3 separate regions of the Homo sapiens genome follow, and regions 2 and 3 are each linked to region 1. Evidence: fine-mapped expression QTL. A gene starts in region 1. Each other region holds a variant in brackets. All regions are shown on one strand. Distances are between the middles of the regions. Region 1 holds the start of PSMB3 (proteasome 20S subunit beta 3). Region 2 holds the start of CWC25 (CWC25 spliceosome associated protein). Region 3 overlaps CWC25 (CWC25 spliceosome associated protein).

Region 1 (8,254 bases):
CACACCCAGCTAATTTTTGTATTTTTAGTAGAGATGAGGTTTCACCATGTTGACCAGGCTGGTCTCGAACTCCTGACCTCAAGTGATCCACCTTCCTTGGCCTCCCAAAGTACTGGGATTACAGGCATGAGCCACCACGCCCAGCAAGCCATTTAATATACATCCAAATATGAGTTAATTGTTACAACTTTATAAGACTTTTTGCAGGGCGCAGTGGCTCATGCCTGTAATCCCAGCACTTTGAGAAGCGGAGGCAGTAGATCAGTTGAGGTCAGGAGTTCAAGACCAGCCCGACCAGCGTGGTGAAACCTTGTCTCTACTAAAAAAAAAAAAAAAAAAAAAAAAAAATTAGCCAGGTGTGATGGCACACACCTGTAATCCCAGCTACTCAGGAGGCTGAGGCAGGAAAATCACTTGGACCCGGGAGGTGGAGATTGCAGTGAGCCGTGATTGCACACCAGGGCGACAGAGCAAGACACCATCTCAAAAAAAAAAAAAGAAAAAGTTTTTGAAAGCTAAAGGGTATTTTTACAAATTACAAAAATTACTTCAAAATAAAAAGTTAAAAGAAAAGAAAAAAAAAGAGATCAGGCCAGGCATGGTGGCTCATGCCTATAATAGGACTTTGGGAGGCCAAGGTAGGTGGATCACCTGAGGTCAGGAGTTCGAGACCAGCCTGACCCACATGTTGAAACTCTGTCTCTACTGAAAATACAAAAATTAGCCGGGTGTGGTGATATGGACCTGTGGTCCCAGCTACATGGCAGGCTGAGGCAGAAGAATCGATTGAACCTGGGAGGTGGAGGTTGCAGTGAGCCGAGATCACGCCACTGCACTCCAGCCTGGGTGACAGAGCAAGACTCCGTCTCAAAAAAAAAAGAAAAAGAGAGCTCAACTTATATTCTGGCCACCCAGGTTTGCCCAGAGGTAGAAAGCACCCACAGGGTTTCCTTTCAATTCCATCCTAGATTTCTGCACTAAATTCTACAGTTAGGCCCCTTGTTTCTCACCATAAAGCCCTCAAGGAGAACTGACGAAAATGAACACCCCATTCCTAGGCTCCCTGCTATTCCCAAGAAGCCAGTGCTGACAGAATAGCTCTAGGGCAAGAGTGGCTCCTGCTGGGAGACCCCAGAACACTCTGGTGGGACTAACTCTTTTGCCTAGATGCAAATTTATCTGCTATGTGCATTCCTTGCCTTCTTCCAACATAAGTATTTTCTTTCCTATCTGGTTGCCAGACAGGCCCAAAGAAAACACACCCATAAAATAAGGATATTATCCTGCAAATAAGAGATGGAAAAACAAGGAGAGTCCTCTTCCTCAGTACCTACTCCATACTACATTCAAAGATGTCTGCATTCCCTCAGTGCTAGCTACACTTGCACTCACCGTTTCTCATACAAGAGGTTGGCCACCATGCTCATGAGGGTATAAGGTTTGATCTGCCGACCTTCCTTCAACTCATACAGGTTCAGCCGGAACTTGAGGCGCTGGGCACTGAGGTAGGAGAAAAGTGAGTTAGTAAGTCATTATTGAATATTCCTGAGTGTCTACCCTGTTGAGGTCAGGGAAACATAAGGAGACATCTCATCTCAGTCCCTGCCCAGGGAAAACTGTAGTCTTACATGTGTTAGGAAGTAGCAACTGGTGCTTGCTTTGGCAGCACACACACACACACACACACACACACACACACATATATATATATATATATATATATTTTTTTTTTTTTTAGACGGAGTCTCACTCGTCGCCCAGGCTGGAGTGCAGTGGCGCAGTCAGTCTCGGCTCACTGCAAGCTCCGCCACCCGGGTTCACGCTATTCTCCTGCCTCAGCCTCTCAAGTAGCTGGGACTACAGGCGCCCGCCACCACTCCCGGCTAACTTTTTGTATTTTTAGTAGAGATGGGGTTTCACGGTGTTAGCCAGGATGGTCTCGATCTCCTGACTTCGTGATCTGCCCACCTTGGCCTCCCAAAGTGCTGGGATTACAGGCGTGAGCCACTACGCCTGGCCAGCAGCACATATATTAAAACTGGAATAATACAGGGAAGATTAGCAGAAGGATGACATGCAAATTTGTGAAGCGTTCCATATTAAAAATGTTTAGGCTGGGCGCAGTGGGTCACACCTGTAATCCCAGCACTTTGGGAGACTGAGGCGGAAGGATTGCTTGAGCTCAGGAGTTCAGCTGTGGGCAACATAGCGAAACCTTGCCTCTTACAATAACTACAAAAATTAGCTGGGCATGGTGGCACACACCTGTAGTCCCAGCTACTTGGGAGGGTGAGGTGGGAGGATCACTTGAGCCTTGGAGGCGGAGGTTGCAGTGAGTTAAGTTTATGTCACCAGCCTGGGTGACAAAAAAAAAAAAAAGGGGGCAGCACCAACTGCTGTGCTATGTGCTAACAGACTTGAAAGATGCCTTAGAAAAAGGCCATTTGGCAGCTCTGGTGAAAAAAGGAAAAAAGGTCACAGCTTGCCAGTTCCATCTCAGAGCCCCAGGATAGGCCCCTGCATAGAGCAGACCAATGCCACACCTGCTGGAGGAAAAGCAATGAGTCTCAGGACACCAGAGCAAAGAGACTTAGAAATGACTTGAGCTTCATCTTCCAGGTAAGGAAACTGAGGCCTAGTGAAATGAGCAGTCATTGCCCAGAAGGAAGCAAACGCAGTGAGAAAAGCCCTCTGAAGAAAAGGAAATGGTGTGAGAACAGCAGTGACTGCAGAAGGGAAGGCTCACGGGAGACTTCACTGACAGGAACCCCAGGATGTCATTCTCTGACTCTACCAGACAGGAAAAAAGGGCAGGCTGGGTGAGATCTCAGTAAGTGTTATGTTCTTGAGACTCAGGGAGTTTTAAGAGAAATGAGAACATTTTCTTTTATTCTTTCTTTTTTTATTTTGTTTGAGACAGAGTCTCGCTCTGTTGCCCAGGCTAGAGTGCAGTGGCACAATTTCAGCTCACTGCAACGTCCGTCTGTCAGGTTCAAGCAATTCTCCAGCCTCAGCCTCCCGAGTAGCTGGGATTACAGGTGCCCACCACCCAGCCTGGCTAATTTTTGTATTTTTAGTAGAGACAGCGTTTCACCATGTTGGCCAGGCTGGTCTGGAACTCCTGATCTCAAGATATCCGCCCACCTCAGCCTCCCAAAGTGTTGGGATTACAGGTGTGAGCCACCGCGCCCAGCCGAAATGAGAACATTTTCTGACAGGCATCCACCCACGCTTGTGAGCTAGTCTCTCCACCTTCTAGGAAACAAATCCAGGACCTGCTGCTCCTCAGGCACCAGTACCCTGCAGGACCTGCCCCCTGTGACCACGTATTCCCTCCTGAAAACCTATCACCGTTCTTTTCCTCTCTTATTCTTCTCTGGCTTCTCTTCGCCCCTCACTGCTAAATGTAACGTTCAGCTCTCAAACTGCCGCTCATTATTTCCCTCCCTACAGACTTTGTCTCTCCAGAATCTGCTCCCATAGATTTGGCACATTGCCAATGCTTCCCCAACCCTGAGATGTAATAACAAAACCCCAACTGCTTGCAAGATGTTTCTATTGGGCTTGTCTTGTCTGCTCAAAATTGTTGTCAAAATCAAAGTCAGGCCAGGTGTGGTGGCTCATGCCTGTAATCCCAGCACTTTGGGAGGCTGAGGCAGGTGGATCACTTGAGGTCAGGAGTTCGAAACTAGCCTGGCCAACATGGTGAAACCCTGTCTCTACTAAAAATACAAAAATTAGCCAGGCATGGTGGTGCGCGCCTGTAGTCCCAGCTACTTAGGAGGCTGAGGCACGAGAATCGCTTGAGCCTGGGAGGTGGAGGTTGCAGTGAGCTGAGATCATGCCACTGAGCTCCAGCCTGGGTGACAGAGCAAGTCCCTGTCTAAAAAAAAAAAAAAGAAAGGGAAGGACATGTTTTTTGGAGGCGGCAAAGTCTCAAACTCACTGGTGGTGTGTGGTAGATGACTGACACCTTGGCCGGTCAAGACGCCGGGGTTGGATGGTCCAAGAAGAGGCCTGGGTGTGGGCGGGGACCCTTGAAACTTACACTGTCTGGACGTCAGTGGCGAGCCCGGCCAGACCGATGTACAGCCGGTCACCCATGGGAAAGATCTTCTGGAAGTCCGTGGTCACCATCTGGGCCTGGATCCCGAAGCGCCTGTCTGCAGCGATGGCCACACAGTTCTTCCCCTTCATGGCCATGACGGCCCCTCCGTTATAGGACATAATAGACTAGGACAGACAGAGCGGAGGGGTCAGCGCGGGGGGTCAAACGCTGCCACAGCCCCCGGCCCAGCTCCTGATGCGGAGGCTCCTGTACGCCCGTTCTCCATTCCGGAGGCGTCTGAACCCCTGGTTCTCCAGCTGGGATGAGCACTGTGTGGCGGCAATGAGCCGCACTCACCCTCTTGGTCCTCACCGGGGCCCGCTCCCCTCGAACTGAAACCGCTTCCTTCCATCGACCCTAGGCCCTTTTCGTCCCCAAGCCTCTCCTGACCCCCTCCGCTTCTCAATCCTTCCCCATGCCCCTTTGCTTTAACTCCCCATCTCACCATGATTGCGGTGTACTAGGATCCCTCGATCGCCAGAGCAATTCCAGTAAACCGGGTCTAGCCTTCACTGCGCAACCGCTCTCACTGCTGTCTCTTCATTGGCTGATAGGCGGACTCTTCCTGGACATCTGGGCTTTCTATTGGTCACACGTCCCTGTCGGTCACCAGTACAGGTAGTTTGGTTGCAAAGTCAAAACGGAGGCGGGAAAAGCGGAAGTGAAAAGTCACTGTGGCTGCGGAAGAGACTTGCGACACGGTGCATAGTGGGATCTCGGCGGACCTGGACTCGGGACCTCAGGGACTGGGGGCGGAGCCTGCGCGCACGTGGGCTGGTGAAACTGGGTTTAGGAAGCTGCGGCCCCAGCTGAAGGGGCACCGTGACGCTTATCAACGTGATGTATGAGTTCGTCGTATTAGTCGTGCTAGCTTATTTATTCACTCCAGAAATCCTGCGTTTACTGTGTACCAGGCACTTGCCTAGGCTCGGAATATTCACTGGCCCACAACAGTGCCTAGTATATAGGAGGCGCCCATTAAATGGAAATTTAATGATGCAGGTGGGAAGGGGAAGGCGTCGCGTGTAGGCGTCGCGGGTATTTTGCGGCTGCAGGGGTTCAGCTGTGAAAGGGAGTTTGGAAGCCGAAGCTTGTTCTGATTTGGGGGACTTCCTGCGGCCCGACTTCACGTATCCTCAATCTCAGGTCACCCTAAAAAGGGACGTTCCGCGCCTCTCCACGTTTGAGGTAGAACCTGAGGATAGCCAGAGTCGACCTCTCGCCGTTCCAATGGAGGAAGGGCGTGCACGTCCCGCGTCCTCTCCTCCCAAGCTCTTTCGCCTCCCTCCCCCATCAGGATCCTTCCCTTTCTCCCCCGGGTTCCACTTATTTCGCCCGATGGCGGCATCTCTTACGGCGTCTGCGCCGTCCAGGCTCGCTCCCATTGACTCGGCTCACTACTACGCCGGTAGTCGACTCGGTCTCTGTGGCGCAATCGGTTAGCGCGTTCGGCTGTTAACCGAAAGGTTGGTGGTTCGAGCCCACCCAGGGACGCTATGACCTTTTTTTTTTTTTTTTTTGTCTTTTGGGTTTTTTTTTTCTCCCCGGAAGATAAAAACCTAAGCCTTTTACTCAAAAGCCAAATTTTGCATTGAAATGGCAGCAGCAATACTTTTTCTAGGAGAATCACTGTTCTTGAAAATTCTTTGCTGCTCAGTCAATAATGGGATAATTTCTCCAGCACTTCCCTCCACACCCCCCCAACCCGCCTCCAAGCTAGATCGCAGGAAACCTAAAGACACAGGTTTTTGTCTCACTGTGCATGCAACACGTTTCAGGATGCATTTTTTCATAGGATTAAGAATGAATTTACAGTGGAGGTTCGACAGTTTTCTATTGTCTGCCTCAATCGATATTACAGTCTCCAAATACTACATTTGGAAGGGAAGAGAATGAGAGAGACACAGAGAGAGAAACAAGTATGAAGAGAAACAAAGGTGAGAAAGGGAGAACATTGTTGTGATACAGGGAAAGAAGGGACGTGACAGAACTAGGCAGGGTGGGTAGGGGAAGACCTCAAGACAATGGAGAGTGGGAAAATAGACGCATTTAATATTAGAAGCATCAGAAAAAAAGGAAAACAACACATTTTTTCCCCCTAGAACTACACAGGGAGGTGGGGGAGGAAGATGGGGAAATAGAAGGAGAAACTGACTAAGGACCTTGTTTGGGGGAGATAAAAGGTATAAAGGACACAGAGGTAAAGACGTTCCGGAAAGCTCTAGAGGAGCCGCCCTCTCCTGTCTCGTCACCATTTTTAAAGGGATCTGATCCTCGCAATAGCTCTTGGTATATGCTGGAGGTAATTGCCTAGATTTCCCGCGTTCCTGTCCTCTGCGAGTCTCTGGCTTGTGACAGCCACTGTGACTCTTCTGATGCACTTGTCAGCTAGAGGACCGCGTGAGATGCAAACACAAAATCAAGGGGCGCCTAATGTCTGACGAGGCGCATTCCTGGGCGCAGTGGGAGCCTCGACCTTTGTGGAGGAGAATGTGCAAAGCACTCTTGAGCAGTTCTCATAGACACTTGGTCTCTGCAGATTCGGCTCAAAGGAGGCCTCTTCTGGAAGCCCACCCCAGTACTCACCCACCCTTAGCGGGAGCTCACACCAGAAGCGATGGGCGCTAAAGGGACAGGCTGTGTGTCCTTCAGGGTTTGCACCCACCGGCCTGTGAGCGCCCTGCGCAAAAGCCAGGCTCCTGTGCCTTGAGTTCCCAGTTCCTAGCGCAGTATTTGACACTGGCACATGACAGGTGCTTTCTATGTCGGCTAGTAGTAGAACAAAAGACTAGGAAACTCTTTCGATGTGGGAAGAGTTGGGTCAGAAGGTTCTCCTGAGAAACCAGAAAGGCCAGGAATGTGGAGACTAGTCATCCAGGACGCAAAAGATGAAAATGGAGTTTTAGTGGGTAATAGGGTCTTAGCACACTCCTCTCTAGCGGTTCTCTCCTGTCTGGCGCTTAACAACCGAAGAATAAGTGGATGGACCCCGGTGGCCCCTCGGGCAGCCCTCCAGGATTCATGGGCCGCAGAGGAACGTCAACCCCCTTCCCACTGGCTGATAATGCCCCGAGGGGCAGCCCCCCAGGTGCCCATGTGGTTGGTGGGTGGGATCCAGATCTCCGCAGAGCCCCTGTTACAGGTTTCTCTTGTTCGGGGTCTTGTAGCCAGAGAGGGGCGGCTGACTGGGAGTCCTTCCCGCGTTCCCCTCCCTGCAGAGCGAGTGGATGCGCGTCTTCCCCGGCAGAGTGCAGGATGCCGGCGACACATTTGCCTGGGAACAGTGGGAGGGTCCCCTTTCCTCCGGGGCCGGTGAACTACTCGCCTCTCCGCCTGCAGGCTCCGGAGCAGGTGACCGGATCTTCCCTTGGCCCTTCTCCCGCCGGTTCTCGGACCACTCCCTCTGGAAGGAAGTCTCTCCGCCCTTCCTCTTCCTCCCCGCCCCCGTCCCGCTGGTGTGGCTGCAGGCTCGAGCTGGGGTCACTCGGCGGCCAGTGTGCGCAGGTCTCCTGGTCGCCGGCCAGAGGGCGAAAGCATTCACCCGAGGCCCCCAGCTTCGCGGCTGCCTTGGCTGCGAGCAACGAGGGAAGAGGAGGCAGGCGCTCCAAAACTGGGCGAAGATTCCTATCCTAATTTCTAACTCGAGCCTCCCACCGTCAGTGCGCTTAATGGCGCTGCTGGCCGGATGGATAATCGAGCTCTCTGGAGGGACAGACGCGGCCGCCATCCCTAATAAATCGTGAATAACGAATGAGGGAATCGACCATCCTCATGAGGCCCACGGGCGTCCAGTAACGCAGTATCGATTCGCTTCCCCGGCGTCGGCCTCACCGCTACTCCCGGCGTTTCCAAGCCTCCCTCCTCGTTCTCTCCCTCCTGCCGGAGCCACTGCGGACCGGAGCCCCAGCGCCAGGTGGAGCCGGGGCGCCAGTGGGAGTCGGGCCCAGCCGTCTTGGCGCTCGCCCGACTCTCCCGCCCGCGCGCCCAGGGAGGCGCACAGGCAGCGCGCAGCGCAGGGCGCGAGCGAAAAATGCGGGAATCAGCGCCAGGCAGGAGAAAAGGCGCGGGCCCACCTTACAGCCCGGCGCCTCGTTTCCTAGTCCAGTGTGGCCGCTCGCCTTCGGCCGGATTATTGTGTCCCAGACC
Region 2 (10,708 bases), 69 kb before region 1:
CTCCCAAAGTGCTGGGACTACAGCAGTGAGCCTGCTTTTCTTTTAAGTAAACTTTATTCAAATACATTTAAGTAAATATTTAATAGGTATTTTGTTTGTTTCTTTTCTTTTTTTTTTTTTCTGAGACAGAGTTTTGCTCTTGTTGCCCAGGCTGGAGTGCAATGGCGCTATCTTGGCTCACCACAACCTCTGCCTCCTGGGTTCAAGTGATTCTCCTGCCTCAGCCTCCAGAGTAGCTGGGATTACAGGCATGTGCCACCACGCCCGGCTAATTTTGTATTTTTAGTAGAGACGGGGTTTCTCTATGTTGGTCAGGCTGGTCTCAAACTCCCAACCTCAGATGATCTGCCCGCCTCAGCCTCCCAAAAGTGCTGGGATTACACGCGTGAGCCACCGAGCCCAGCCTGTTTCTTTCTTTCTTTCTGTTTTTTTTGAGACAAAGTCTCACTCTTGTCGCCCAGGCTATAGTGCAGTGGTGCCATCTTGGCTCACAGCAACCTCCACCTCCTAGGGTCAAGTGATTCTCTTGTGTCAGCCTCCCAAGTAGCTGGGATTACAGGCACCCGCCACCACGCCCGGCTAATTTTTGTATTTTTAGTAGGATGGGGTTTTTCCATGTTGGCCAGGCTGGTCTCAAACTCCCAACATCAGGTGATCCACCCACCTGCCTCGGCCTCCCAAAGTGCTGGGATTACAGGAGTGAGCCACCGCGCCCGGGCAATAAGTATTTTTAAAAAGCCATAAGAACTAATAAGTGAATTTAGCAAGCCTGTAAAATAGAAGGTTACTATACAAAAGCACGTTCTTATCTATTAGTAGCAAACAATTGGAAAATTAAAATTTTTAAATTTTATTTAAAATAGCATCACAGGCCGGGTGCCTGTAATCCTTGCATTTTGGGAGGCCAAGGTAGGCGGATCACCTGAGGTCAGGGGTTCCAGACCAGCCTGGCCAACACGGTGAAATCCCATCTTTACTACAAACACAAAAATCAGTAGGTCGTGGTGGCGTATGCCTGTAATCCCAGCTACTCGGGAGGCTGAGGCAGGAGAATCGCTTGAACCCAGGAGGCGGAGGTTGCAGTGAGCTGGTATTGCGCCACTGTACTCCAGCCTGGGCAACAGAGTGAGATTCCGTCTCGAAATAAATAAATAAATAAATAAATAAATAAATAAATAAATAAATAAATAAATAAATAAAATAGCATCACAAAAAATACAACATTTAGAATAAATTTAACAAAAGATGTGCAAAACTTCTATTCTGAAAATTACAAAACAGGTCGGGCGCAGTGGCTCACACCTGTAATCCCAGCACTTTAGGAGGCCGAGGTAGGAGGATTGCTTGAGTCCAGGAGTTTGAGACAAGCCTGGGTAAGATGGCAAAACCCTGTTGCTACAAAAATAAAAATAGCCAGGCGCGGTGGCTTATGTCTGTAATCCCAACACTTTGGGAGGCTGAGGCGGGGAGATCACTTGAGGTCGAAATTCGAGACAAGCCTGAGCAACATGGTGAAACCCTGTCTCTACAAAAAATACAAAAATTAGCCGGGCGGGTGGCGGGCGCCTGTAATCCCAGCGACTTGGGAGGCTGAGGCAGGAGAATTGCTGTCCGGGAGGCGGAGGTTGCAGTCAGCTTCGACCGCAGCCTGGGAGAGCAAAACTCCTTCTCAAAAAACAAAAACAAAGGGAGAAGAAGAAAAAGAAAAAGAAAAAAGAAAAACATGCCAAAAACACATAGTAACTGAAGGGAAAGGAATCTGCCAGCTTCCCACTATGGGAAAATCTGCCACTGTGGAAGCTGGCAGATTTTAAAAGTTTGGCAAACGGAAGCTGATGGAATTTCGATTTGATGGTTTCTATTTAGCTTCGTAAAATAGGCCTGGCATAAGGGGATTTGCTGTGAGTCAAGGTCTGAGGAAAGCGCCAGTTTGCAAAGCCGTTTTGGAAAACTGGAGCGTGGGGGTGTGTGCAGGGTGAGGGGAGGAGGCCTAGTCTGGTCCACCTTAGGTCTAGCAGAGACTACGTGGAGCTTTGAGCCGAATGCCCTGGTGAGCTGCCATGGCAACACAGCCGTGGGCACAGGCCCACGGCAACCCATCACTGAACAGAGTTGTGGCGTTTCAACAGAGAGTCTGGGACATCAGGCAACGTGGCGACCCGAAGCAGCCAAAATGAGACCTCGACAGCAAAGGCCTCGACAGCGGAGCCCGGACCTTTGCAAAATCTGCAAGTAACGCCAACGTCACAAAGCGCGACCGAGCCCTGTACGTCATCGTTCCGCGACGCCGACGCGGTGAGATGACGCCCTCCCGGAAGTGACCTCTAGAGCGGTGGTGAAACTGGCAGTTGACGGCTCCTGGGACTAGATCCCGCGAGGTAGCCCCCGAACTATTTCTCTACGTTTTCTCTTGATCCTCCCGAAATCTTCCAGATCCGCGTAGTGAGGAATCGTCTCCACCGTCATGGGGGGCGGAGACCTGGTGAGTGGAGGGAGGCCTGGGCGGGGGAGGACTGAGGCCGGGACGGAAATTGGCAGGGGGTGGGGGTAGAGGAAGGAGTGGATAACCATGGCAACGCAGCTTTGCTTTCGCCGGGAGGAGGCCGTTGCCCTGAAGAGGGGATGGATCCTTAGGGCAATGGAGGGGTGGGACTGAGATTTGGGAAAGTCCGAGGTGTGTCGCGAACAGTGACAGGTGGTGTTTGCGTGTTTGTTGACTGCGGCTCTACCGGCTGTAAATTCTGGGAAGACCGGGGAGGGGGCGGATGGAGCCATGGCTAGGAAAGGAGGTAGATATGGAGGACGTGTCACCACACTTTGTTTTGTATATCTTGTCTTGCCACACACCTCTCTTCCTTGGGTGAGAGTTCAGAGTCATGTCCTGGACTGAAGTAGGGGTGGTTTGTGCCCCATTCTCCCTACCCTAAGCCATGCCCTGGGGTCGTTTTTTATTTTTTATTTTTTTGAGACGGAGTTTCTTGTTGCCCAGGCTGGAGTGCCATGGCGCGATCTCGGCTGACCGCAACCTTTCCCTCCTGGGTTCAAGCGATTCTCCTGCCTCAGCCTCCCGAGTAGCTGGGATTACAGGCATGCGCCACCACACCCGGCTAATTTTGTATTTTTAGTAGAGACAGGGTTTCTCCATGTTGGTCAGGCTGGTCTCGATCTGCCGACCTCAAGTGATCCGCCCGCCTCGGCCTCCCAGAGTGCTAGGATTACAAGGGTTAGCCACAGCGCCCGGCCCTGGGGTCCTTTTTAAGCCTGAAGGGATCTTCCTGTCCATCTTTCTGACTTCCACACCTCCTTCAGTGCTGGATTCTGATCTGTAGTGGCAGAGCTTGCTTTTGAATTCATACCACTTAATATAAGTTATGTGGCAATGTCTCTTAAACTGAAACGTTCATTTGTAAAGCGCTAAGGCCCCAAATAGGGTAAATGTACCCACAAGAGCATGGGGCAAGGTTGGGAAAATGCTAGCCTCCGGAAAGTGGAGCTAATTGAACCAGCAAGTAGATCAGCTTAGCCGCCTGCCCAGTAAACCTATTAGTTTGTCATGTGTTCTCAATCACAGTGAGTGCCAGGACTCCATCTAGTTTCATCCAATTTAGTGTATTCTTCACATAACTGCATTTAAGGACAGGAAAGCTCTAATCCAGGGTTTCTCAACATTAGCGCTCTTGACAGTTTGGCCTAGATAATTCTTTGGGGGTGTGTGGTAGTGGTGGTAGTTGGGCTGTCCTGTGCATTGTAGAATGTTTAGCAGCATCACTGGCCTCTAGCCACTAGACTGGAGCTATCCACTAACACCCGTCTCCACCAGTTGTGACAGCCAAAAATGACTCCAGAAGATTTTCTCCCTGGGGAGCAAAATAATCTATGCTTGAGGCAGGGAGGACAAGATGGGAAGGGTTAGAGGGAGAAAGAGGGAGGGAGTGAGGGAGGAAGGACGGAAGGATGGACGGATGGTCAGACCAACTGACGGACTGACCCACAACCAACCAACTGAATGACCTGACGAAGGGGAGAGGCAGGACAAGGAGGGGAAGAGAAAAGGAAGAAAAGGGAGCTCTCATTGACCGAACATTTTCCACATGCCAAGTACCTTGTGGACATGATCTTATTTTCTTAATTGGTCTCCTGGTCCTCTCCAGTCCATTCTCTTTTCTTTTTTTTTTTTTAAGATGGAGTCTCAGCCAGGTGCAGTGGCTCATGCCTGTAATCCCAGCACTTTGGGAGGCAGAGGCGGGTGGGTCACGAGGTCAGGATTTGAGACCAGCTTGGCCAAGATGGTGAAACCCCGTCTCTACTAAAAATACAAAAATTAGCTGGGAGCAGTGGCGGGCGCCTGTAATCCCAGCTACTTGGGAGGCTGAGGCAGGAGAATCGCTTGAACCCAGGAGGTGGAGGTTGCAGTGAGCCAAGATTGCACCACTGCACTCTAGCCTGCGTGACAGAGCAAGACCTCGTCTCAAAAAAAAAAAAAAAAAAGTTAAAAAAAAAGTTGGAGTCAGGCTGGGTGTGGTGGCTCACACCTGTAATCCTAGCACTTTGGGAGGCCAAGGCGGGCAGATCATGAGGTCAGGAGATCGAGACCATCATGGCTAACACGGTGAAACCCGTCTCTACTAAAAATACAAAAAAAATTAGCTGGGCATGGTGGCGGATGTCTGTAGTCCCAGCTACTCAGGAGGCTGAGGCAGGAGAATGGCGTGAACCTGGAAGGTGGAGCTTGCAGTGAGCCAAGATTGCGCCACTGCACTCCAGCCTGGGCGACATCTCAAAAAAAAAAAAAAAAAATTGGCCAGGCGTGGCGGCGCATGCCTGTAATCCCTTTACATGGCTTATAAGGCCCTTATTCTGCTCCTTTCTCACTTGGCTTCTTCTTGCGTCCCTGCACCATCAGCTTGCCACATCTCCAGCCACACTGAATTATTGCTATGTTCTTTCTCACCACCAGGACTGCACTTGTCTGTACTGTTCCCCTCTGTTTGGAAATCTACCCCCCTCATCTCCCCTTCACACATCACCAGGCTAGTTTACAATTGTCTTTAGATATTACTTACTTTGGGGAACATTTCATTATTGGGAAAGTGAACCAAAGCAGTATCTGATGGGGAGGAGAGAGAGAAGTGTTCTTTGAGGGTGAATGGGGAGATCAGAACCAAGGAGAGATTCCTGGGAAGGAAAGTTGAAAGAGATTCTGGGTGGGTTGTAAACCATGCAAGTTTAGGGCAGGTGAAGTAGACCAAGCTAAGGTAGGTTGAGTTCCAAAGAATGAATGTCCATGCCAGGCACGGTAGCTCATGCCTGTAATCCCAGCACTTTGAGAGGCCAAGGCAGGCGGATCACCTGAGGTCGAGAGTTTGAGACCAGCCTGACCAACATAGAGAAACCCCATCTCTACTAAAAATACAAAATTAGCCGAGTGTGGTGGCGCATGCCTGTAATCCCAGCTACTCAGGAGGCTGAGGCAGGAGAATCATTTGAACCCAGGAGGCAGAGTTTGCCGTGACCCGAGATCCTGCCATTGTACTCCAGCCTAGGCAAGAAGAGTGAAACTCC[G/A]TCTCAAGAAACAAAAAAGGCTGGGCACGGTGGCTCACCCCTGTAATCCCAGCAGTTTGGGAGGCCACTGCGGGCAGATCATGAGGTCAGGCGTTTGAGACCAGCCTGGCCAATGTGGTGAAACCCCATCTCTACTAAAAAATACAAAAATTAGCCAGGCATGGTGGCACGTGCCTATAGTCCAGCTACTCAGGAGGCTGAGGCAGGAGAATTGCTGGCACCCGGGAGGCGGAGGGTGCAGTCAGCCGAGATAGCTGCACTCCAGCCTGGGTGACAGAGTAAGACTTTAAAAAAAAAAAAAAAAGAATGAATGTCCACTGTCAGAAGTGCATGAGTTCTGTTCTCTTTCAAAATATGTGCCTTCCTGCTCATTACTGCATTCCTCCTGTCTTGTCATCACCAACTCTGATTTAGGTATGGCTAGTGGAAGGATGACTTGTATGCTTTTAAGGTTAAAACTGTTTGAAGGGAATTCAGGAAGGACCCGTTCTATCCTGAAGCTTTCTTGTTCTTGTTCTTGTTGTTTTGAGACGGAGTCTTGCTCTGTCGCCCAGGCTGTAGTGCAGCAGCGCAGTTTCGGCTCACCGCAACCTCCGCCTCTTGGTTCAAGCGATTCTCCTGCCTCAGCCTGCTGAATAGCCGGGACTACAGGCGCACCTGCCACCACGCCCAGCTAATTTTTGTATTTTCAGTAGAGGCGTTTCATCATGTTGGCCAGGCTGGTCTAAAACTCCTGACCTCAAGTGATCTTCCCGCCTCCGCCTCCCAAAGTGCTGGGATTACAGGTGTGAGCCACTGCGCCCGACCTGTCCTGAAGCTTTATACACTTGAACAAGCTCCCCTTCCCCTCTAGATGTGTGAGAGATTATTGGAAGAAAACCTTGCCATTGTTGAAGACATCTTGCCCTCACACGCCTGCCTTGGGTATGGAAGGGTGGGTGAGGCAGGGCTAGTTATACCCACCACTCAGTCACCCCCCGAATTATCATCACCTTCTTTTTATTTACCACAGAATCTGAAGAAGAGCTGGCACCCGCAGACCCTCAGGAATGTGGAGAAAGTGTGGAAGGCCGAGCAGAAGCATGAGGCTGAGCGGAAGAAGATTGAGGAGCTTCAGCGGGAGCTGCGAGAAGAGAGAGCCCGGGAAGAGATGCAGCGCTATGCGGAGGATGTTGGGGCCGTCAAGTAAGTGAGGAGCTGGGGGTGCGCTTGTGTGTAGGGAATTGCAGAGCTGTCCTGAGATGCATCATCCAGTGTTGTATAATGGCTGAGTGCTTAAGGGCATGGGTTGTAATGCCAGACTCACCTGGATTCTAAGGTTGGCTTTGCATGTACTAGCTGTGGAACTGTGATCAAATTTGAGAGACTTGGTTACTTCAGTAGGACCAGGGAGTAATAATACCCAACGCCTTCTTAAGGTTTGTTGAGAATCAAATGAGATAACACGTAAGGACTTGCTGTAAGCCGAGCTCACAGTAGATGGCTGATAACCGTGATGGAGGATGGTTGCTCTACCCTGCTTCTCAGCATATGTTGAGGATGCAGTCCTGCCTTTGTTAATGTATTTCAGGCTTGCTTGGGTCGGCGGGGACAGGGGGCAGGGAGTGAGGTCCCATGAGAGAAGGTGGATGGTATGCTTGTCAATAAAAGCTGAGTGATTACGGCCAATGCCACTAGATTTTACCCTGCTTCAATTTCCTGTTGTATAATATAGGATACGAGTAGCAGATAATAACTACCCCATCCATCTCATAAAAGGAGATGGGAGTAAATATGTTTGAGAAAATAAAAAGCATACAATATGCAGTGTATTCTTAAGTCAGAATAAAATAAAATAACAGATAGACTAAAACTGGGGACTAGGTGCGGTGGTTCATGCCTGTAATTGCTGTATTTTGGGAGGCTGAGAAATCACTTGAGCCCAGGAGTTTGAGACCAGTCTGGGTAATGTAGTGAGGCTCCATCTCTGTTTAAAAATATATAGGCTGAGTGTGGCGGCTTATGCCTATAATCCCAGCACTTTGGGAGACTGAGGCAGGCAGATCACTTGAGGCCAGGAGTTCTAGACCAGTCTGTAGTAGGAACCCATCTCTACAAAACAATAGAAAAAAATTAGCCAGGCACGATGGCTTACGCCTGTAATCCCAGCACTTTGGAAGGCCGAGGCGGGCAGATCACTTGAGGTCAGGAGTTCGAGACCAGCCTGACCAACATGGTAAAACCCTGTCTCTATTAAAATACAAAAATTAGCTGGGTGTGGCGGTAATCCCAGCTACTCAGGAGGCCGAGGCAGGAGAATTGCTTGAACCCGGGAGGCAGAAGTTTCAGTGAGCTGAGATCATGCCACTGCACTCCAGCCTGGGCGACAGATTGAGACTCCATCTCAAAAAAACGAACAAACAAAAAAAAAATAGAGGCTGGGTGCAGTGGCTCACGCCTGTAATCTAGCACTTTGGGAGGCCGAGGTGGGCGGATCACCTGACGTCAGGATTTCGAGACCAGCCTGGCCAACACGGTGAAACCCCATCTCTACTAAAAAAAAAAAAAAAAAATTAACTGGGCGTGGTAGCATGCATTTGTAGTCCTAGCTACTCGGGAAGCTAAGGCAGGAGAATCGCTTGAACCCAGAAGGTGGAGGTTGCAGTGAGCTGAGATTGCGCCAGTGTACTCCAGCCTGGCGACAGAGCGAGACTCCGTCTCAAAAAAAAAAAACCAAAAATTAGCCAGGCATGGTGGCACATGCCTGTAATCCCAGCTACTCGGGAGGCTGAGGCAGGAGAATCACTTGAACTCAGGAGTTGGAAGTTTTAGTGAGCTGAGATCACGCCATTGCACTCCAGCCTGGGTGACAGAGTAAGACTTCGTCTCAAAAAAAAAAAAAGAAAGAAAGGAAAAGTTAGCTGGGCATGGTGGCATGTGCCTGTAGTCCCAGCTACTTGGGAGGCTGAGGTAGGAGGATTGCTTGAGCCCAGGAGTTCGAGGCTACAGTGAGCTATGATTTTGCCACTGACTTCGGCCTGGGTGACAGAGTGAGACTCTGCCTCTAAGTAAATAAATAAATAAATAAATAAGTAAAAATTGATTTTAGACTGAATACCCATTAGTCATAAGCCGAGGTACTATCCAAAGGTAAAAATTGTTTTGACATTTTTATTCACCAAAGCATTACACATCATGTGCTCAATTTATCAGAAATTTGGGCTTTTGTGGAGTCTGATTAATGAGGTCAGAGTACAGATGCACAACTGTAGAGAAAGGAGCCAGCATTGTTGCAGACTCATGCCTGCTTGTCTGTCGTGAATGGGGGAAGGTGATTTTATATGCTTTGTTTTGTTTTGCCCTATCACATGTCCTACAATATTGTAAAACACTAAGATCAGCATTTGGTTCTCTCTGCCCCTTCTCTTTTTGGTCTTTACTGCTAATGTATTTAGATGACTTAAGTATTCATCTGTTTGTTTTGTATAGTTCTTTTTTTTTTTTTTTTTTTTTTTTTTGAGATGGAGTCTCGCTCTGTTGTCCAGGCTGGAGTGCAGCACGATCTCGGCTCACTGCAAGCTCCGCCTCCCGGGTTCATGCCATTCTCCTGCCTCAGCCTCCTGAGTAGCTGGGACTACAGGCGCCCGCCACCACGCCCGGCTAATTTTTTGTATTTTTAGTAGAGACGGGGTTTCACTGTGTTAGCCAGGATGGTGTCGATCTTTGACCTCATGATCCGCCCGCCTCGGCCTCCCAAAGTGTTGGGATTACAGATGTGAGCCACAGTGCCCGGCTGGTTTTATTTTTGTTATTTATTTTATTTTATTTTTTGAGATGGAGTCTCATTCTGTCGCCCGGGCTGGAGTGCAGTGGTGCGATCTTGGCTCACTGCAACATCTGCCTCCTGGGTTCAAGCGGGTCTCTTGCCTTAGCCTCCTGAGTAGCTGGGATTACAGGCGCACATCACCACGCCTGGCTAATTTTAGTATTTTAAGTAGAGATGGGGTTTCACCATGTTGGTCAGGCTAGTCTTGAACTCCTGACCTTGTGATCTGCCCGCTTCAGCCTCCCAAAGTGCTAGGATTACAGGCGTGAGCCACTGCACCCGGCCTATTATTTATTATTATTATTATTATTTTTTGAGTCAGAGTCTTGCTCTGTCTCCCAGGCTGGAGTGCAGTGGCACAATCTCCGCTCACTGCAGCCTCCACCTCCCAGGTTCAAGCAATTCTCCTGCTTCAGTCTGCTGAGTAGCTGGGATTACAGGCGTGTGCCACCACGCCTGGCTAATTATTATTATTATTATTGTTATTATTTTTGTGTGACAGAGTCTCGCTCTGTCACCAGGCTTGAGTGCAGTGGTGCGATCTCGGCTCACTGTAACCTCCGCCTCTTGAGTTCAAGCGATTCTCCTGCTTCAGCCTCCCGAGTAGCTGGGACTACAGATGCACGCCACCAGGTCCAGCTAATTTTTGTATTTTTAGTAGAGACAGGGTTTCACCATGTTGGCCTGGATGGCCTTGGTCTCTTGACCTTGTGATCCGCCCATCTTTGCCTCCCAAAGTGCTGGGATTACAGGCGTGAGTTACTGTGCCTGGCCTAATTTTTTTGTATATTTAGTAGAGATGGCATTTCACCATGTTGGCCAGGCTGGTCTTGAATTCCTGACCTCAAGTGATCTGCCCGCCTAGGCCTCCCAAAGTGCTGGGATTACAGGTGTGAGCCACAGCGCCCGGCCCCATGATCAATTCTTATTTTTTTTTTTTTGAGACCGAGTCTCGCACTGTCACCTGCGTTGGAGTACAATGGCATGATCTCAGCACATTGCAACCTCCACTTCTCGGGTTCAAGCGATTCTCCTCCCTCAGCCTCCCGAGTAGCTGGGACTACAGGCGTGTACCACCACGCCTGGCTAGTTTTTTGTATTTTTAGTAGAGACGGGGTTTCACTGTGTTGGCCAGGCTGGTCTTGATCTCCTGACCTCGTGATCAGCCTGTCTTGGCCTCCCAAAGTTCTAGGATTATAAGTGTGAGCCACCGTGCCCAGCTGATCAGTTCTTAACTGTAGACTACAGTGTTTCTCAGACTCATTTTTTTAATATGAAAAAAATTCTAAAGGGTCTTGGGGCCAGGCACGGTTGCTCACGCCTGTAATCCCAGCACTTTGG
Region 3 (10,708 bases), 55 kb before region 1:
ATATTTGTGAGAGATTTTTGGCTTTGACACCATCATGTCGTTTTTTATTTATTTATTTTTTTTGAGACAGGGTCTCACTCCGTCACCCAGACTGGAGTGCAGTGGCACAATCTCAGCTCACTGCAACCTCCGCCTCCTGGGTTTAAGTTATTCTCCCACGTCAGCCTCCCGAGTAGCTAGGACTGCAGGTGCGTGCTGCTACCATGCCCGGCTAATTTTTTTGTTTTGTTTTTTTTGGTAGAGACGAGGTTTCACCATGTTGGCCAGGCTGGTCTTGAACTTCTGACCTCAAGTGATCCGCCTGCCCCAGCCTCCCAAAGTGCTGGGATTACAGGTGTGAGATGAGCCACTGCACCCAGCCCCATCATCATGTAGATTTTTTTTTTTTGGAGACAGAGTCTTGCTGTGTCACCCAGGCTGGAGTGCAGTGGCACGATCTCAGCTCACTGCAATCTCCGCCTCCCAGGTTCAAGCGATTCTCCTCCCTCAAGTAGCTGGGAGCGATTCTCCTCCTCCCAAGTAGCTGGGATTACAGGTGCACACCACCACACCCAGCTAATCATGTAGATTTTAACATGGGCCAGTTTGTCTGTATATGTTTGGAGAAAAGGTTACTCCATAGAATTTGGAGAAAAGAAATAGTCATGAATTTTGTAATTATCTCTCTTTAGGAAGAAGGAGGAGGAGAAAAAACGAGAGGTATTAAATAATCCAGTGAAAATGAAGAAAATCAAAGAATTGGTAAGTAGTATACCAGATAAGCACCAAGAGCATCTTTTAGCCATATAACGTGAGAACGTCTCTCCATTTACTCTCAGCTTACCAGGGGAAAAACAGAATGGCCTCTAAAACTTTTGTCTTTTAGAGACCATGTTGTGGCTATTTTATGTAATCATTTTTTTGTTTTTGAGACGGAGTTTCAATCTTGTTGCCCAGGCTGGAGTGCAATGGCATGATCTCAGCTCACCGCAACCTCCGCCTCCCAGGTTCAAGTTATTCTCCTGCCTCAGCCTCCCTAGTAGCTGGGATTACAGGGATGTGCCACCACGCCCGGCTAATTTTGTATTTTTAGTAGAGACGGGGTTTATTCATATTGGTCAGGTTGGTTATTTTATGTAATCTTAGTTTATTAAGCTTAATTAAGCTTGATTTTGGTTGAAAGTCTTTTGGGTGGGAGAATGCACCATGTGATGTCGTTTTTCCAGAAGAAGAGTGTGGGCTAAGCCTGTGGAAAGCATTACCATGCAGTGTGTTCAGGAGGTTGGAGTATGCCCTTGGTCGTGGTATAAAGCTTCTAGGGGCTGGGCGCGGTGGCTCATGCCTGTAATTCCAGCATTTTGGGAGGCCGAGGCGGGTGGATCACCTGAGGTTGGGAGTTTGAGACCAGCCTGACCAACACGGAGAAACCCTGTCTCTACTAAAAATTCAAAATTAGCCGGGGTGGTGGTTCATGCCTGTAATCCCAGCTACTTGGGAGGATGAGGCAGGAGACTTGCTTGAACCCGGGAGATGGAGTTTGCTGTGAGCCAAGATTGCGCCATTGCACTCCAGCCTGGGCAACAAGAGCGAAACTCTGTCTCAAAAAAAAAAAAATAAGGCTTCTAGGGCCCACTTACCATTCACATGACATATTATGTAATTGTGTCTTGGATCAGTTGGTAAGGAAAGTTAAAGATTGACCTTATAGTTCCTGACTGCTTTCAGTGGAATTGGAGTTCCTGTGACACAGAATGGAAACTCCTAGGCAGTGGTTTTGGTGACTGTTTAAAAACACAAATTCTTAGTCTCACCTACCAGATACCAGTTCAGTAGTTGGGGGTGTTAGTGCACGGCCAGGGTTAAGACCCTTCCCCTGGTGTGTTGACAGGGAACCCCTATAATGTCCTGGACTTCTGTAGACCCAGAGGCATGGAGTCAGGCAGTTTGTGCATGAGCCACGCCCCTCAAAGGAGACTGATAGGGGTCTCAGTAATCTTTTTTTTTTTTTTTTTTTTTGAGACGGAGTCTCGCTCTGTTGCCCAAGGTGGAGTGCAGTGGTGCAGTGACACGATCTTAGCTCACTGCAAACTCCGCCTCCCAGGTTCATGCCATTCTCCTGCCTCAGCCTCCTGAGTAGCTGGGACTACAGGCGCCTGCTACCATGCCCAGCTAATTTTTTGTATTTTTAGTAGTGATGGTGTTTCACCGTGTTAGCCAGGATGGTCTCCTTCTCCTGACCTTGTGATCCACCCGCCTTGGCCTCCCAAAGTGCTGGGATTACAGGTATGAGCCACCCCGCCTGGGCTTTTTGTTTTTTTTTAATGAGATGGAGTCTCACTCTGTCGCCCAGGCTGCTGGAGTGCAGTGGCGTGATCTCAGCTCACTGCAACCTCTGCCTCCTGGGTTCAAGTGATTCTTCTGCCTCAGCCTCCCGAGTAGCTAGAACTACAGGTACACACCACCACACCCAGCTAATTTTTGTATTTTTAGTAGAGATGGTCTTTCACCATATTGGCCAGGGTGGTCTCGAACTCCTGACCTTGTGATCCTCCCACCTCAGCCTCTCAAAGTGCTGAGAGATTACAGGCGTGAGCCACCATGCCCAGCCAGTAATCTTTTTTTTTTTTTTTTTTTTTGAGACACAGTTTCACTCTGTCACCCAGGCTGAAGTGCAGTGGCACAATCTCGGCCCACTGCAACCTCTGCCTCCTGGTTCAGGTGATTCTTGTACCTCACCTCTCAAGTAGCTGGTATTACAGGTGCCCACCACCACACCCAGCTGATTTTTGTATTTTTAGTAGAGATGGGGTTTTGCCATGTTGGCCAGGCTGGTCTCGAACTCCGGACCTCAAGTGATGATCTGCTCCACTCAGCCTCCCAAAGTGCTGGGATTACAGGCATGAGCCACTGCGCTGGCTGGTCTCAGTAATCTTGTGTGCTTGTGTTCTCGGCATTTTCCAGTTGCAAATGAGTCTGGAAAAAAAGGAGAAGAAGAAAAAGAAGGAGAAGAAAAAGAAGCACAAGAAACATAAGCACAGAAGCTCGAGTAGTGATCGTTCCAGCAGCGAGGATGAGCACAGTGCAGGGAGGTGAGCATGTGGCGACTGGCCTCCCTTCTCGTTGATTCACTTGCTCATTCACTCATTCATTCCACAGACATGAACACCTGCCCTGTGCTGGAAGCTGCCAGGTACTGGGCATTCAGTGATGAACACTTGAACATGGGCCCAGTGCCCACAGAGCTTGCCATCTAATGCTAGAGTTCCTTGGAGATGCTAAATGTGAGTGGGTATCTTGGCCATGCTGCTGGAGAGAGACCCTTAATAATGCTGACTTTAGCCTAGTAGGTCTTAGGTAGGTCAGACATCCTGGGGGTGACTCTGTTTCATCTCAGCTTAGGATTCCTTCAAGACTGAAGTGGGCTTTATATAGGCTTTTTTTAATGGACTGATGGCTGATGTGGGCCCATTTTGCATGTCTTCCTGTGGAAGCAGTCAGCTCCGCCGCTGCTGAGTCACTATTTGTCCCTGGAATAGCAGCATGAAGTGAGAGGAGAAGGTGTTCAGGCGTTGGGGCTTAGAAGCGAGGCCCACAGTTTTTCACAGGAAAATTTGATTGTGCTGATGCATTTTTCGGCATAGACAGTCCAAATAGAGAAACGTACTGCCAGGTAACTGCTGGGAGGCGGAAAGGTCACATTGGAGGCAAGAAGCATAGTTCAGCATAAGATATTTAAATTGGACCTATATATATTTTCTTTTTCAATGAGTGTGTGTATTTTGATCTCTTAGATCACAGAAGAAGATGGCAAATTCCTCCCCTGTTTTGTCCAAAGTCCCTGGATATGGCTTACAGGTAGGGATGTGGGCTTCTTGAAAGGAGTGACTGTGGGACTGTGGGATGTGCCACTTGGACAATGTGGATAGCAGGGAGGTGGGCAGTGAAGCCTGGGCTGCTGGGAAACAGGCCCATTCTTATCGCTGAGCACCTTCTTGTGGCTGATGACCCTCTGAGCAGAGAGACTAAACCACCAATGGGGCATTGAGACATTCTACCCATCCCTCTACAAATAATTTACATGAAATGCACACATTTTAAGTGTATAGGTTTTTTTGTTTTTTTTTTTTTTTGAGACGGAGTCTCGCTTGTCACCCAGGCTGGAGTGCAGTGGCGCGATCTCGGCTCACTGCAACCTCTGCCTTCCGGGTTCAAGCTATTCTCCTGCTTTAGCCTCCCGAGTAGCTGGGATTACAGGCGCCCACCACCACGCCCGACTAATTTTTGTATTTTTAGTAGAGACAGGGTTTCGTCATGTTGGCCAGGATGGTCTTGAACTCCTGACCTCAGGTGATCCCTCCGCCTCGGCCTCCCAAAGTGCTGGGATTACAGGTGTGAGCCACCGTGCCTGGCCTAAGTGTGTAGGTTGATGATTTTTGACAAACATAAATCTGCTGGGTTCTTTTTTTTTTTTTTT[G/TG]AGTAGCAGTGCATCATTATTTTGCCTAGGCTGGTCTCGAACTCCTGAGCTTAAGCAATCTTCTGAGTAGCTGGAAGTACAAGTTCAAGGCACCTGGCTTGACTTCTGTATTTCTGTATTTTTTTTTTTTTTTTTTGAGGTGGAGTTTTGCTCTTGTTGCCCAGGTTAGAGTGCAATGGCGCGATCTCAGCTCACCACAACCTCGACCTCCTGGGTTCAAGCAATTCTCCTGCCTCAGCCTCCCGAGTAGCTGGGATTACAGGCATGCACCACCATGCCCGGCTAATTTTGTATTTTTAGTAGAGACAGGGTTTCTCCATGTCAACCAGGCTGGAGTGCAATGGTGCAATCTCAGCTCACTGCAACCTCTGCCTCCTGGGTTCAAGCGATTCTCCTGCCTCAGCCTCCTGAGTAGCTGGGATTACAGGCACCTGCCATCACACCTGGCTAATTTTTGTATTTTTAATAGAGACAGGGTTTCTCCATGTTCGTCAGGCTGGTCTCAAACTCCTGGCCTCAAGCTATCCGCCTGTCTCGGCCTCCCAAAGTGCTGGGATTATAGGCGTGAGCCACCATGCCTGGCCTCATATTTCTGTATTTTTAACCTTGGGTCCTGTCCTCCATGCTTCTGCATCTCGCTCTTCCTTAACCTATAGTGAAGAGCTAAGCCAGGTGTATTCTTTTCTTTCTTTTTTTTTTTTGAGAGGGAGTCTCGCTCTGTCGCCCAGGCTGGAGTGCAATGGTGCGATCTCGGCTCACTGCAACCTCTGCCTCCTGCATTCAAGTGATTCTCCTGTCTCAGCCTCTTGAGCAGCTGGGACTACGGGCACCCACCACCACACCCGGCTAATTTTTGTATTTTTAGTAGAGAGGGGTTTGACCATATTGGCCAGGCTGGTCTCGAACTCCCGACCTTGTGATCTGCCCGTCTTGGCCTCCCAAAGTGCTGGGATTACAGGCGTGAGCCACTGCACCCAGCCAAGCCAGGTATATTCTTTTCTTTTCTTTTCTTTTTTTTTTTTTTTTTGAGATGGAGTCTCACTCTGTCGCCTAGGCTGGAATGCAGTGGCGCCATCTCGGCTCACTGCAAGCTCTGCCTCCTGGGTTCATGCCATTCTCCTGCCTCAGCTTCCCAAGTAGCTGGGACTACAGGTGCCCACCATGCCCAGCTAATTATTTTGTATTTTTAGTAGAGACAGTGTTTCACCATGTTAGCTAGGATGGTCTTGATCTCCTGGCCTCGTGATCTGCCTGCCTCAGCCTCCCAAAGTGCTGGGATTACAGGCATGAGCCACAGCACCCAGCCATCTTTTTTTTTTTTTTTTTTGAGACAGGGTCTTTCTCTCTCATCCAAGCTGGAGTGCAGTGGTGTGATCCTGGCTCACTGCTGTCTTGACCTCTTAGGCTCAAGGGATCCTTCTGCCTCAACCTCCTGAGTAGCTGGGACTACAGGCGTGTGCTGCCACACCGAGCTAATTTTTAAATATTTTGTAGAGACAAGGTCTCACTAGTTGCTCTGGGTGGTATCAAACTCTTGATCTCAGGCAGTCCTCCTGCCTCCGTCTCCCAAAGTGTTGGGATTCAAGGTGTGAGCGACTGCACCTGGCTGACCGAAGGAGATTCTTTTAGGGGATTCTGCAGATAACTAAGTTTATACAGTTCTCTGTGATAATTCTATGTGATGATATTGGTGTGCTCAGTGAGCTCCTTATGTAACATTTCCTGTTTCACTGCCTTTTCTTTTTTTTTTTTTTTTTTTTGAGACGGAGTCTCGCTCTGTCATCCAGGCTGGAGTGCAGTGGTGCGATCTCAGCTCACTGCAACCTCCACCTCCTGAGTTCAAGCAATTCTCCTGCCTCAGCCTTCTGAGTAGCTGGGATTACAGGTGCCCACCACCACGCCCAGCTAATTTTTTAATTTTCAGTAGAGACAGGGTTTCACCATGTTGGCCAGGCTGGTCTCGAACTCCTGACCTCAGGTGATCCCCCCCGCCTCGGCCTCCCAAAGTGCTGGGATTACAGGCGTGAGCCACTGAGCCCGGCCGCGTTTTCTCCTGAATAGCTGGATTTTCCATGTGAATAACTTCTCTTTTCCTTAATGATGTAGGTCCGGAACTCTGACCGTAACCAGGGTCTTCAGGGTCCTCTGACAGCAGAGCAAAAGAGAGGGCATGGGATGAAGAACCATTCCAGATCCAGAAGCTCCTCCCACTCACCCCCAAGACATGCCAGCAAGAAGAGCACCAGGGAAGCAGGGTCCCGGGACAGGAGGTCTCGATCCCTGGGCAGAAGGTCACGGTCCCCAAGACCCAGCAAACTGTGAGTGTGGGATTCACTGGGAAATAACCTGTGACTGTGGGGGCCTGGTCCCAGCAGGCATTTGTTTTTGCTTTTGGTGATGTCCGTCCATTGACTTTCCCAAATGTCTTTGCTTTGGTATTTCCTTTACATCATTTTTTTTTTCCACCTCAATGTAAAGCTCAGGCATCCAAAGCCACATATCTGTAGGTGTATTCTGTGCTTTGGGAGCTCTGGGGTGAGTCTAACATCAAACCCTATACCTTTGTTTTTCTCACACTTAGATTATACCTCTAAGACCATTAGCTCATCTTGCATTGTTTGAGGGATTCAGTGTAAGCCCCTGGACCAAAAAGGCTTTTTCCTCTTTGCCTTCTGTGTCTGCTACAGGCACAACTCTAAGGTGAACAGGAGAGAGACAGGCCAAACTAGGAGCCCATCACCTAAAAAAGAGGTCTACCAAAGGCGACATGCTCCCGGATACACCAGGTGAGTCAGGAGCCCAGTTGATTAACCACATTTTGCAGGCCTGAATCTAGAAGGGGCTCAAACCATGGCAAATGGATAATCCATCATTACCTTTTCGACGAACCAACTTTTATTTATCTTGCCAACCTGTAAGGGTCTGCGTCCCCTGCCTCCAGCCATGTGAGGACATTGAAAGGACGAGGTAAGGCTGGGCGTGGTGGCTCACGCCTGTAATCACAGCAGTTTGGGAGGCTGAGGTGGGTGGATCACCTGAGGTCAGGAGGTCGAGACCATCCTAACCAACACGGTGAAACCCCATCTCTACTAAAAATATAAAATTAGTTGGTCATGGTGGCACATGCCTGTAATCCCAGTTATTTGGGAGGCTGAGACAGGAGAACTGCTTGAACCCAGGGGTTGGAGGTTACAGTGAGCTGAGATCTCACCACTGCACAGCAGCCCAGGCGACAGTGCAAGACTTTGTCTCAAAAAAAAAAAAAAGTCTCTTAACAAAAACCAAGCCAGACACAGCAGTCCATGCTTGTAATCTCAGCGCTTTGGGAGGCTAAGGCAGGGAGGATCACTTAAGGTCAAGGGATTAAGGTTGCAGTGAGCTACGATCAAGCCACTGCATTCTTGCTTGGGCGACAGAGCGAGACCCTCTCTTAAATTAAACCCTCTTTAAAAAACCCCTCAATTATTCTCTCTGGGTGTGGTGGCTCATACCTGTAATCCCAGCAGTTTGAGAGTCCAAGGCAGGAGGATCGCTTGAGGCCAGGAGTTCCAGACCAGTCTGAGCAACATAATAAGACACTATCTCTACAAAAAATTATTTTAAAAACATTTAAAAAAACAAAAGCTAGTAGTTCTTTGCCCTGCCTGATCCCACTTTTAGTCATGCTACCCAAAGGCAACTACTTTCAGCTTTTTCAGTAGTTTCTTTTCATAGCTACATATTCCTAAAAATACAAATATGTTGCTGCCTCTTCATCCATTAATTTTAGATATTAGATATTTTCTTTTTTCTTTCTTTGTTTTTTTTGGAGACAGCATCTTGTTGTATCTCCCAGGCTGGAGTGCAGTGCCACAATCTTGGCTCACTACAACCTCTGCCTCCGGGGTTCAAGTGATTCTCCTGTCCCAGCCTCCCGAGTAGCTGGGACTACAGGCACATGTTGTCACGCCCAGCTAATTTTTTTTTTTTTTTTCTGAGATGGAGTTTCATTCTTGTTGCCCAGGCTGGAGTGCAATGGCCCAATCTCGGCTCACCACAACTTCCGCCTCCTGGGCCCAAGTGATTCTCCTGCCTCAGCCTCCTAGGTAGCTGGGATTACAGGCATGTGCCACCACACCCAGCTAATTTTTGTATTTTTAGTAGAGACAGGCTTTCTCCATGTTGGTCAGGCTGGTCTCGAACTCCCAACCTCAGGTGATCTGCCTGCCTCGGCCTCCCAGAGTGCTGGGATTACAGGCGTGAGCCACCACGCCCGGGCTTCCTTTTTTTTTTTTTTTTTTTTTGTCTCGCTCTGTCGCCCAGGCTGCAGCGCAGTGGCACGATCTCGGCTCACTGCAACCTCTGCCTCCCGGGTTCCAGCGATTCTCCTGCCTCAGCCTCCCGAGTAGCTGGGACTACAGGCGCATGCCACCATGCCCAGCTAATTTTTGTATATTTTAGTAGAGATGGGGTTTCACCATATTGGTCAGGCTGGTCTTGAACTCCTGAGGTCAGGTGATCTGCCCGCCTCAGCCTCCCAAAGTGTTCGGATTACAGGCATGAGCCACAGCACCTGGCCCTAATTTTTGTATTTTTAATATAGATGGGGTTTCAATGTGTTGTCCAGGCTGGTCTGGAACTCCTGAGCTCAGGCAATCCACCTGCCTTGGCCTCCCAAAGTGTTAGGATTACAGGTGTGAGCCACCGTGCCCGGCCAGATCTTAGATATTTTCTTACTGTTATAGTAAATAATCTGTTAGTGTAAATGAGCTCTCATACACTCCTAGTCCCATGTTTCTTCTATCCCTATCTTTCCAATATGGTTACATCAGAATTTTTGGTTCAGTGAGTATGTGGATTCATACTTGTATGATATATAAATATTGTTTACTGATACTTTTCATTCCTAAGCCAAGCAGAATATGGAGGTTACATTTCCTTTCTTGTATGATTTGTATATTTTTTCCTAGTGTCAGTATTTGCTTCCTGCAATCTAAACCATGTCTTTGAGTTCTAGGAAATTTTCTTGTATTATTTCTTTGATAACTTCTTTCTTCTCCCTACAAGGTCTCACTCTGTTGCCTAGGTTGGAGTGCAGTGGGGCGATCATGGCTTACTGCAGCCTCACACTCCCAGGTTCAACTGATCCTCCTACCTCAGCCTTCCAAATAGTTGGGGCTACACGGGTGCCACCATGCCCAACTAATTAAAAAAAAATTTTTTTTTTGCAGAGATGGGAGGTCTCACTTTGTTGCCTAGGCTGGTCTTGAACTCTTGGACTCAAGCAATCCTCCTGCCTAAGCCTCCCAAAGTGCTGGGATTACGGGCTAGAGCCACTGTGCCTGGCAATCGTTTTTGTTTTTTTTTTTTAAGCCTCCTACTCTCATTTGAATGCTCTAATATCTTTCATTTATTATCTGAAGCAGATTTTTAATAGTAAATTGTTTTTCGTTTGGAGGTTTTTATTTTTTTTTGAGACAGAGACTCACTCTGTCACCCAGGCTGGAGTGCAGTGGTGCGATCTTGGCTCACTGCAACCTCCGCCTCCTCGGTTCAAGCGATTCTCCTGCCTCAGCCTCCCAAGTAGCTGGGATTACAGGCACACACCACCACACCCAGCTTATTTTTGTAATTTTAGTAGAGACAGGGTTTCCCCATGTTGGCCAGGCTGGTCTCGAACTCCTGACGTCAGGTGATCTGCCCGCCTTGGCCTCCCAAAGTGCTGGGATTACAGGCGTGAGCCACCATGCCTGGCCCTATTTATTATTTTCTGAGGCTAAGTTATTCCTTCAGCTTCTGGCTTCTAGCTTAGTCCTAAAGTAGTGTACTCATGGGCTGTGTCATGAATTTCTAGTCTCCAATGGGTAGTTAGATGGTAGATGTTAACAGTTACATGGATAACCTAGTCTTCTGTTCTTCTGTCAATTGTTGAGCAAACCATTGGGATATAATTGCTACAAGTTTAGGTTCCTGATGAGTTCCCAATTTATTTCATATTTCATATTTCAGAATAATCACTCTAGAGATTACTGAGTGAGATTATGGAATACTTTACTAAAAGCCTTTGAAATTTGGATGAAACCTCCTGACCAGGACGTTAGAAGGGAACTCAGGCTGGCCTTGCACTTGGAGAGAGCAGTGAACTGGAGAGCTTGGGGTCCCACCTGGCTTCTGTGCTTCTTGTGCTGCTTCTGGTTTTTTTGCTGGAAGAGACCTGATCGTATGGTTTCTGTGCTCAACAGAAAACTCTCTGCAGAGGAATTAGAGCGAAAACGG

What was found. PIP is the estimated chance that this variant, and not a neighbour inherited with it, causes the effect.
Region 2: its variant is fine-mapped to the expression of PSMB3 in whole blood (INTERVAL, PIP 0.94).
Region 3: its variant is fine-mapped to the expression of PSMB3 in whole blood (INTERVAL, PIP above 0.99).

What each region holds. Positions count from the first base shown.
Region 1 is chr17:38,749,129-38,757,382 of GRCh38, reverse strand. It overlaps PSMB3 (proteasome 20S subunit beta 3), which reads right to left and starts at 4,642. Exons shown (of 6, transcript NM_002795.4): 1 at 4,554-4,642; 2 at 4,049-4,233; 3 at 1,393-1,500. The coding sequence starts at 4,556. TRN-GTT2-5 (tRNA-Asn (anticodon GTT) 2-5) reads left to right here and starts at 5,529; the gene lies at 5,529-5,602. LOC100287808 (a long non-coding RNA gene) reads right to left here. Exons shown (of 1, transcript NR_149004.1): 1 at 5,631-8,254. It also overlaps a transcript of PCGF2 not described here and the pseudogene RNU6-866P.
Region 2 is chr17:38,816,940-38,827,647 of GRCh38, reverse strand. CWC25 (CWC25 spliceosome associated protein) reads left to right here and starts at 2,327. Exons shown (of 10, transcript NM_017748.5): 1 at 2,327-2,482; 2 at 6,575-6,747. The coding sequence starts at 2,465. MIR4727 (microRNA 4727) reads right to left here and starts at 1,810; the gene lies at 1,756-1,810. RefSeq lists an enhancer at 2,988-3,619. The variant G/A (reference allele first, on the strand shown) is at 5,563.
Region 3 is chr17:38,802,828-38,813,535 of GRCh38, reverse strand. CWC25 (CWC25 spliceosome associated protein) reads left to right here. Exons shown (of 10, transcript NM_017748.5): 4 at 672-741; 5 at 2,941-3,068; 6 at 3,771-3,834; 7 at 6,560-6,771; 8 at 7,141-7,239; 9 at 10,675-10,708. Among named protein-coding and RNA genes, the nearest start is that of PIP4K2B, 8.6 kb to the right of the region's middle. The variant G/TG (reference allele first, on the strand shown) is at 4,454.